Linked DNA regions of Homo sapiens: region 2 is linked to region 1. A link means that fine-mapping ties the variant in region 1 to the plasma level of a protein whose gene starts in the linked region. Region 1 holds a variant in brackets. A gene starts in the other region. All regions are shown on their forward strands. Region 1 holds the start of LOC124901377 (a long non-coding RNA gene). Region 2 holds the start of MCAM (melanoma cell adhesion molecule).

Evidence for each region. A credible set is the group of variants that fine-mapping cannot tell apart. PIP is the posterior inclusion probability: the model's chance that the variant is causal. Protein levels are from antibody-based Olink assays in UK Biobank. Linkage for the fine-mapping came from a reference panel and not from the study's own genotypes, which makes the PIPs less certain.
Region 2: it holds the start of MCAM, and the variant in region 1 is the best candidate, but not a certain one, in a credible set for the plasma level of the MCAM protein (UK Biobank, PIP 0.61).

Annotation. Positions count from the first base shown.
Region 1 is chr6:111,196,384-111,199,288 of GRCh38, forward strand. The region is part of intron 3 of SLC16A10 (solute carrier family 16 member 10); the gene reads left to right. LOC124901377 (a long non-coding RNA gene) reads right to left here and starts at 1,975. Exons shown (of 2, transcript XR_007059707.1): 1 at 1,779-1,975. The variant G/A (reference allele first, on the strand shown) is at 1,713.
Region 2 is chr11:119,315,401-119,318,305 of GRCh38, forward strand. MCAM (melanoma cell adhesion molecule) reads right to left here and starts at 1,730. Exons shown (of 16, transcript NM_006500.3): 1 at 1,635-1,730. The coding sequence starts at 1,701. RefSeq lists an enhancer at 1-416 and a silencer at 2,009-2,068.

The sequences.
Region 1 (2,905 bases):
CATGTGCCCATGGTCCCAGCTACTTAGGGGGTTGAGGTGGCAGTGAGCTGTGATCGTGCCACTGCACTCCAGCCTAGGCAACAGCGAGACCCCATCTCAAAACAAAAACAATAAAACAGAACACAGATTAAAAACAAAATACAGGCTGGGCTCACTGGCTTATGCCTGTAATCCCAGAACTTTGAGAGGCCAAGGTGGGAGGATTGCTTGTGCTCAGGAGTTTTAGATCAGCCTGGGTAACATGGCAAGACCACATCTCTACAAACAACAACAACAGGAGACTATACTTTCAGGGACCATTTCTGGGGATCATAGTTTGTTACTAGAGAAGTTTCTCTGTGTAGAGCATTGAAATATAAAAATGCAGAATAATCATTTACATAGCATTTACATTGTATTGGTTATTATAAGTAATCTAGAGATTAATTAAAGTATACAGGAGGATATACATAGGTTACATGCAAATACTACACCATTTTGTATAGGGGACTTGATCATCCATAGATACGGGTATCTGAGGAGGTGTTGGGTTCAGTTCTCCACGGATACCAAGAGACTAATGTTAATTTCATTTCCCCAACCTCCACACCAGAACTCTGAAATAAGAATAAGAAAAGGAGCAGTTGGGATAGACAATATCAGAAGTATGTGGAAATGATAACAGTGGAAGGAAAGCTGATCTAGGCCTACTCAACAAATTTTAATCTTCATTCCGGTAAAAACAAATTAGATTTATGGGTGCAAATTTGAGCCAGCAATTAGATGGCTCTTAGGATTAATAAAAAAAGACTGAACATCATGCCTTCCAAAGACTGAGGGAAAGAGATAGATAGGAGACTTTGGCAAAGTAGCACTTTAGCCAACATCATTAGCCTAAATCTTAGTGAAGAGAGGTTAGAAGAAAGGTAGAATTTTCATGGAAGGATCCATTTTTCTTCACTTCAGAATTAAGGGAAAAATTAGGAAGCTGAATAAGAACTAATGGCCTAATTTCTTTGTTTCTTTCAAAAATCAAATCTTTAAGTTAAAATTTCAATAACCAACAGAAGAAGGTAGAACCAATTTTGTGAATTTACAAAATACTTGCTTATTGACACTATTGCCAAGGTCATTAAATAAGTTATCAAGTTACCTCAGATCCCAGTGATTTAAATAATGCTTTCTGAATGTATCCTTTTCTGTTTTAAGAAGAAGCTGTATTAGGTTCTTGTGTTCCTATAAAGAAATACCTGAGGCCGGATGATTTATAAAGAAAAGAGGTTTAATTGGCTCACGATTCTGCAGGCTGTATAGGAAGCATGGCCCCAGCATCTGCTCAGTTTTCTGGTGAGGTCTCGGGGAGCTTTTACTCATGGCGAAAGCAGAGTGGAAGCAGCAGGTCACTTGATGAAATTGAGAGCAAGAGTATGGGTGGGGAGCTGCCACACTCTTAACCCAATCTCTAGTGAACACAAGCAATAACTCACTTATCACCAAGGGAATGGTGCTAAGCCACTTGTGATGGATCCACCTCCAAAATCCAGTCACCTCCCACCAGGTCCCACCTCCAACATTGGGAATCACATTTCAACATGAGATATGGAAGGGACAAACATTCAAACCATATCAGAAGCCTATCTTAGGCTGGGCACGGTGGCTCACGCCTGTAATCGCAGCACTTTGAGAGGCCGAGGCAGGCAGATCATTTGAGGTCAGGAGTTTGAGACCAGCAC[G/A]GGCAACATGGTGAAACCCCATCTCTACTAAAAATACAAAAACTAGCTGGGCATGGTGGCACACACCTGTAATCTCAGCTACTCGGGAGGCTGAGGCAGGAAGCTCTCTTGAACCCGTGGGCAGAGGTTGCAGTGAACTGAGATTCTGCCACTGCACTCCAGTCTGGGCAACCGAGTGAGGCTCTGTCTAAAAAAAAGAGAAGCCTATATTAAACTTATAAAATTTAATATCATTTCAACTAGCCTTTTGTTGGGTGCATTTGTTCACTTTGGACTATTTTTCCAAATTCATGTACAGTCGTGCATCTCTTAACAATGAGGATATGTTCTGAGAAATGCATCCTTAGGCAATGTCATTGTTGTGCAAACATCATAGAGTGTACTTAGACAACCCTACATGGTGTAGTCACTACATACCTAGGCTATATGGCATAGGTAGAGCCTATTGCTCCTAGGCTACAAACCTGTACAGCATGTTACTGCACTGAATGCTGTAGGCAGTTGTAACACATGGTATTTGTGTATCTAAACATGGAAAAGGTACAGTGAAAGTACAGGATTATAATCTTATGGAATCGCTGTTATATATGTGGCTCATCTTTGACCAGAAATGTTATTATGTAGCACATGACTGTAATTCCACTATTGATTAGAGACTCCATAACCCACACCTACCTGTTCATTTGCATGCACATTTAGCCGATAGGTGACTTTATCACTAGATCAGTCCAAGAATAAGTTTAAAGAGCATGTCCCCTTTTCTTGTTTTTTAATAAATGTAAAACATGGAAGTACATGATACCTCAAAGGAGCATGAATCACAAACAGGAGTCCACATTTACAGAGCCTTTGCAACCACTTTTATATCTTCAAAGTGCTCTACCAAAGTATCGGAGTCAGTCAGTCATGCAGGTAGGCTGCCAACCATGGCTGAGCCCTCAGGAGCTGTCTTGATGACCAGCATAGACACGGTCTGTTGTGTTCATTCAAACTTGCCAGGAACCAAGGATCTGAGAATGGTAAGTCTGGTGTGCCAAGAATGAAACTCCAAGAAAGAAACTTCAGAATCAAATTTAAATTTAGGCTGGGTGTGGGGGCTCATGCCAGTAGTCCCAGCGCTTTGGGAGGCTGAGGTGGGCAGATCACCTGAGGTCAGGAGTTTGAGACCAGCCTGGGCAACATGGTGAAACTCT
Region 2 (2,905 bases), not on the chromosome of region 1:
CCCACCCCGACCCGCGCCCCACCTGGGCCAGCCCTCTCCCCGTCCAGGAGATCCCAGGTCCTTGGAGCCAAGCAGAGATTGAGCAGAGACTGAGCACCGAACAGCTCCAGCTGAGGCTGGTAGAGGGGCAGAAAGGGGCAACCTAGGCTCGGGGCCAAGAGGAAGGCCCCTTTCCTTCCAGGCCCCCTCCTCTCCGGGTGAGCTCAGAGTGTGGGAATGCAAAGCATGTGCCAGGCTGGGGCACACAGGCCCTTTTGTGTCACCACCGCCAGGGGAAGACACCACTGCTCTATCCTCTGCCCTCCAAAATCCCTGCCCTCACTCCCCAGCGGGCTAACTCTGGCGGAAGTTCCGGTCTCATGCTCCCTCAGCAGCACCTCCATGAACACTCCGCACACACCCGCGGACCCCACCCTAGGTAGCTGGTAAGGATGGAGAGGTCAGAGTCTCCCCCAGGGGTCAGGGCAAGGGCCAGGCAGTGGGCAGGAGTGACGTCAGTGGTGCCAGCGTGCTGCCAGCCCTGTGAGGAGGTGATGTCACTCGACACCATCTGCCTGGGCTCTGGGATGCCTGGGTTGTTACCTTGGCTCTCGGACAAGGAGGGCAGGTGGAAGGTGGGGTCTCCAACCCAGAGCCTCAGACCCCTGACTCCTCCCAGAGCTAGAAGAGCAGGGCAGGGTGGAGCTGGACCGGCTGCAACTGTGGAGCCCGATTTAGCCCTTTCCCCAGAAATAAAGTCAGCCTGGGAGGCAGTAGCCTGGAATACCCCAGGGACATGGTTGGCACTGGGCATGAGGCCAGCGAGCTGGGTATTGCCTAGCCCTCCCCTTCCCCAGCCGGACAGCGGCTGGGACGGCGGAATGGGAGCCAAGAGAAACACGCGACACCGCTGCGGGCCATACAAGGGCAGCGTGGACCCGAGAGCGCCCTGCTACCAGGCGGATCCGGAGAAACGCTCCGAGGTGCCCGGGCGCACTTCCCACCTGAATGTGGTCCCCAAAATAAGCCAGCGGGCGCTTCCAGTATGGGAATCCTCCATCCCTCATCTCTGTCCCCTATGATCCCATCACTCGGGGAGGCGCGAGGCGACCCACACCGCCCCGCAACCCCTGCCAACGCCCAGCTCGGGCGGGAGCCGCCGAACCTCCCGCTCTCGCTCACCTCCAGCCTGGCGTGATGCCCAGGCAGAAGGGGGAAGGGGTGGGTCGGCGCACCCCCTCCAGCGAAGGAAGCTGCCTTTTCCAGCAACAGGCGGGCGCGGAATTCAGGCTTTGAGGATGCGCCCCAGCTGCGCCTCCTGCCCGGCTTCAATTGCGGGCCCCCAGAGTGAGCACCTCAGGGACCACCCACCCCCCAGCACCCCGAAAGGCTGAGCTCCACCCCTTCTCGTTCCCAGAAGCAGCCTCCTCCCCGCCTTCCGAGTGCTGCTCCCGGGATACTCTAGAATCCCGGCTGCAAACTGGCTGCAAAGAAGAGTTGCTCGCGCGCAAGGCGCCCGGGGATCGGGGACCCAGGGAGGAGGCTCGTCCTCCCAGACGCAACGCCCCGACCCCGCCGCGCCGCTGGCTCTGCTCCCTGGCACGCTCCACCGCAGACCCCTAGCCGGGGCGCGGCCCCCCTGCGAGCGAACTCACCCGCGACGCGAGGACAGCAGCAGCAGGCGGCGAGCAAGAAGGCGCAGACCAGCCTGGGAAGCCCCATGCTTCCCGGCCGGAGGGCGAGAGCCAAGTGAGCAGCTCGAGGCTGCCGGGGGCTGACGTCAGGGGGGCGGGGGAGGGGGCCCGGAGCGCCCGGGCCCGCCCCGCCCCGCGCAGCCCCCAGCCCCCGCCCCGCGCGCCGCAGCCCTAGGGGGCGGGCCCCGGCGCCGCCAGCCCGGGAGCTGCGCCTAGGAGCGCTGCCGGAGGTAGGCCAGAGCCGGACTCCCAGGCTCCTGGCTTGGGAAGGCTGAGGGGGTAGTGACAGGTGTCTCGGGGTCTGACTGGCCGAGGTGGCAGCGAGGAGAAGCTGTCCCGGATGCCCGGAGTCGCCCCGGGTCGAAGCCAGCCAGGCTCACCGCTGCTCAGCCCCTGCCAGCCAATGTAGCCCCTAGGGGACCTCCTGGGGGAGGAGCAGTAGCGGACCTGGTCCTCGGTGTCCCCAAGGGGCCTCCCACTTGGGCTCCCCTCCCTTGCCACAGAGAATTCAGGCCGGCCTCTATCGCTTCCCAGAACGATTGCACCACTGCCGCTGCCGCCGGCCTGACACTGCCTCAGCCTCAGTGCTGGCAGCTTTGGGAGAAGAACCCTGCGCCAGTCCCACAGACCCAGAAGTACCTGTATGGGGAGTGCAGACGATGCCTTCTGGGCTGTCCCTTCAAACGCAAGCTCCTGCAAGTCTAGCCTTTGACCAGAGAAAGGAAGGAGGGGGCTGAATTCGCAGGCCCAAGGTGTTCACACTTGTCCAGACCTGGGCCTTGAGAATCATGTTTCTTCCCTCTTCACTCTGGAGCCTACCCTGGAACTCAGTTTCCCCTCACCTAAGAGAAAGAAACAGGGAGAAGAAAGAGTTAATGGGCGAGGGTCCCCAGCCTGACCCTGCAAACCTGTTGCTGTTCCTGATGATTGAAAGGATCCCGGCAGCGCTGATCTTCCCCCACCCCATGTCTTCCCCAGCCCTATTGATTGTGGGTCCATAGCTGAGGGAAGAATCAAATCAGACCTGCTTGGGTGGGGAGCTCTGCAGCTCCCCTTCTCCCAAAACGCCGGCTTCTCCCTGGGTCTTCTGGCCTCTTGAACTAAGGCTCTAGGGAGGGGGAGGTGCTCTTGCCTCACTCTGACCCCAGCAGCCTGGCCTCAGAAAAGGGGTCCACATCTGCTGGCGCGCCTCCACCAGGGAGTGCCAAATAGGGGCCTGGATTTGGGTAGAG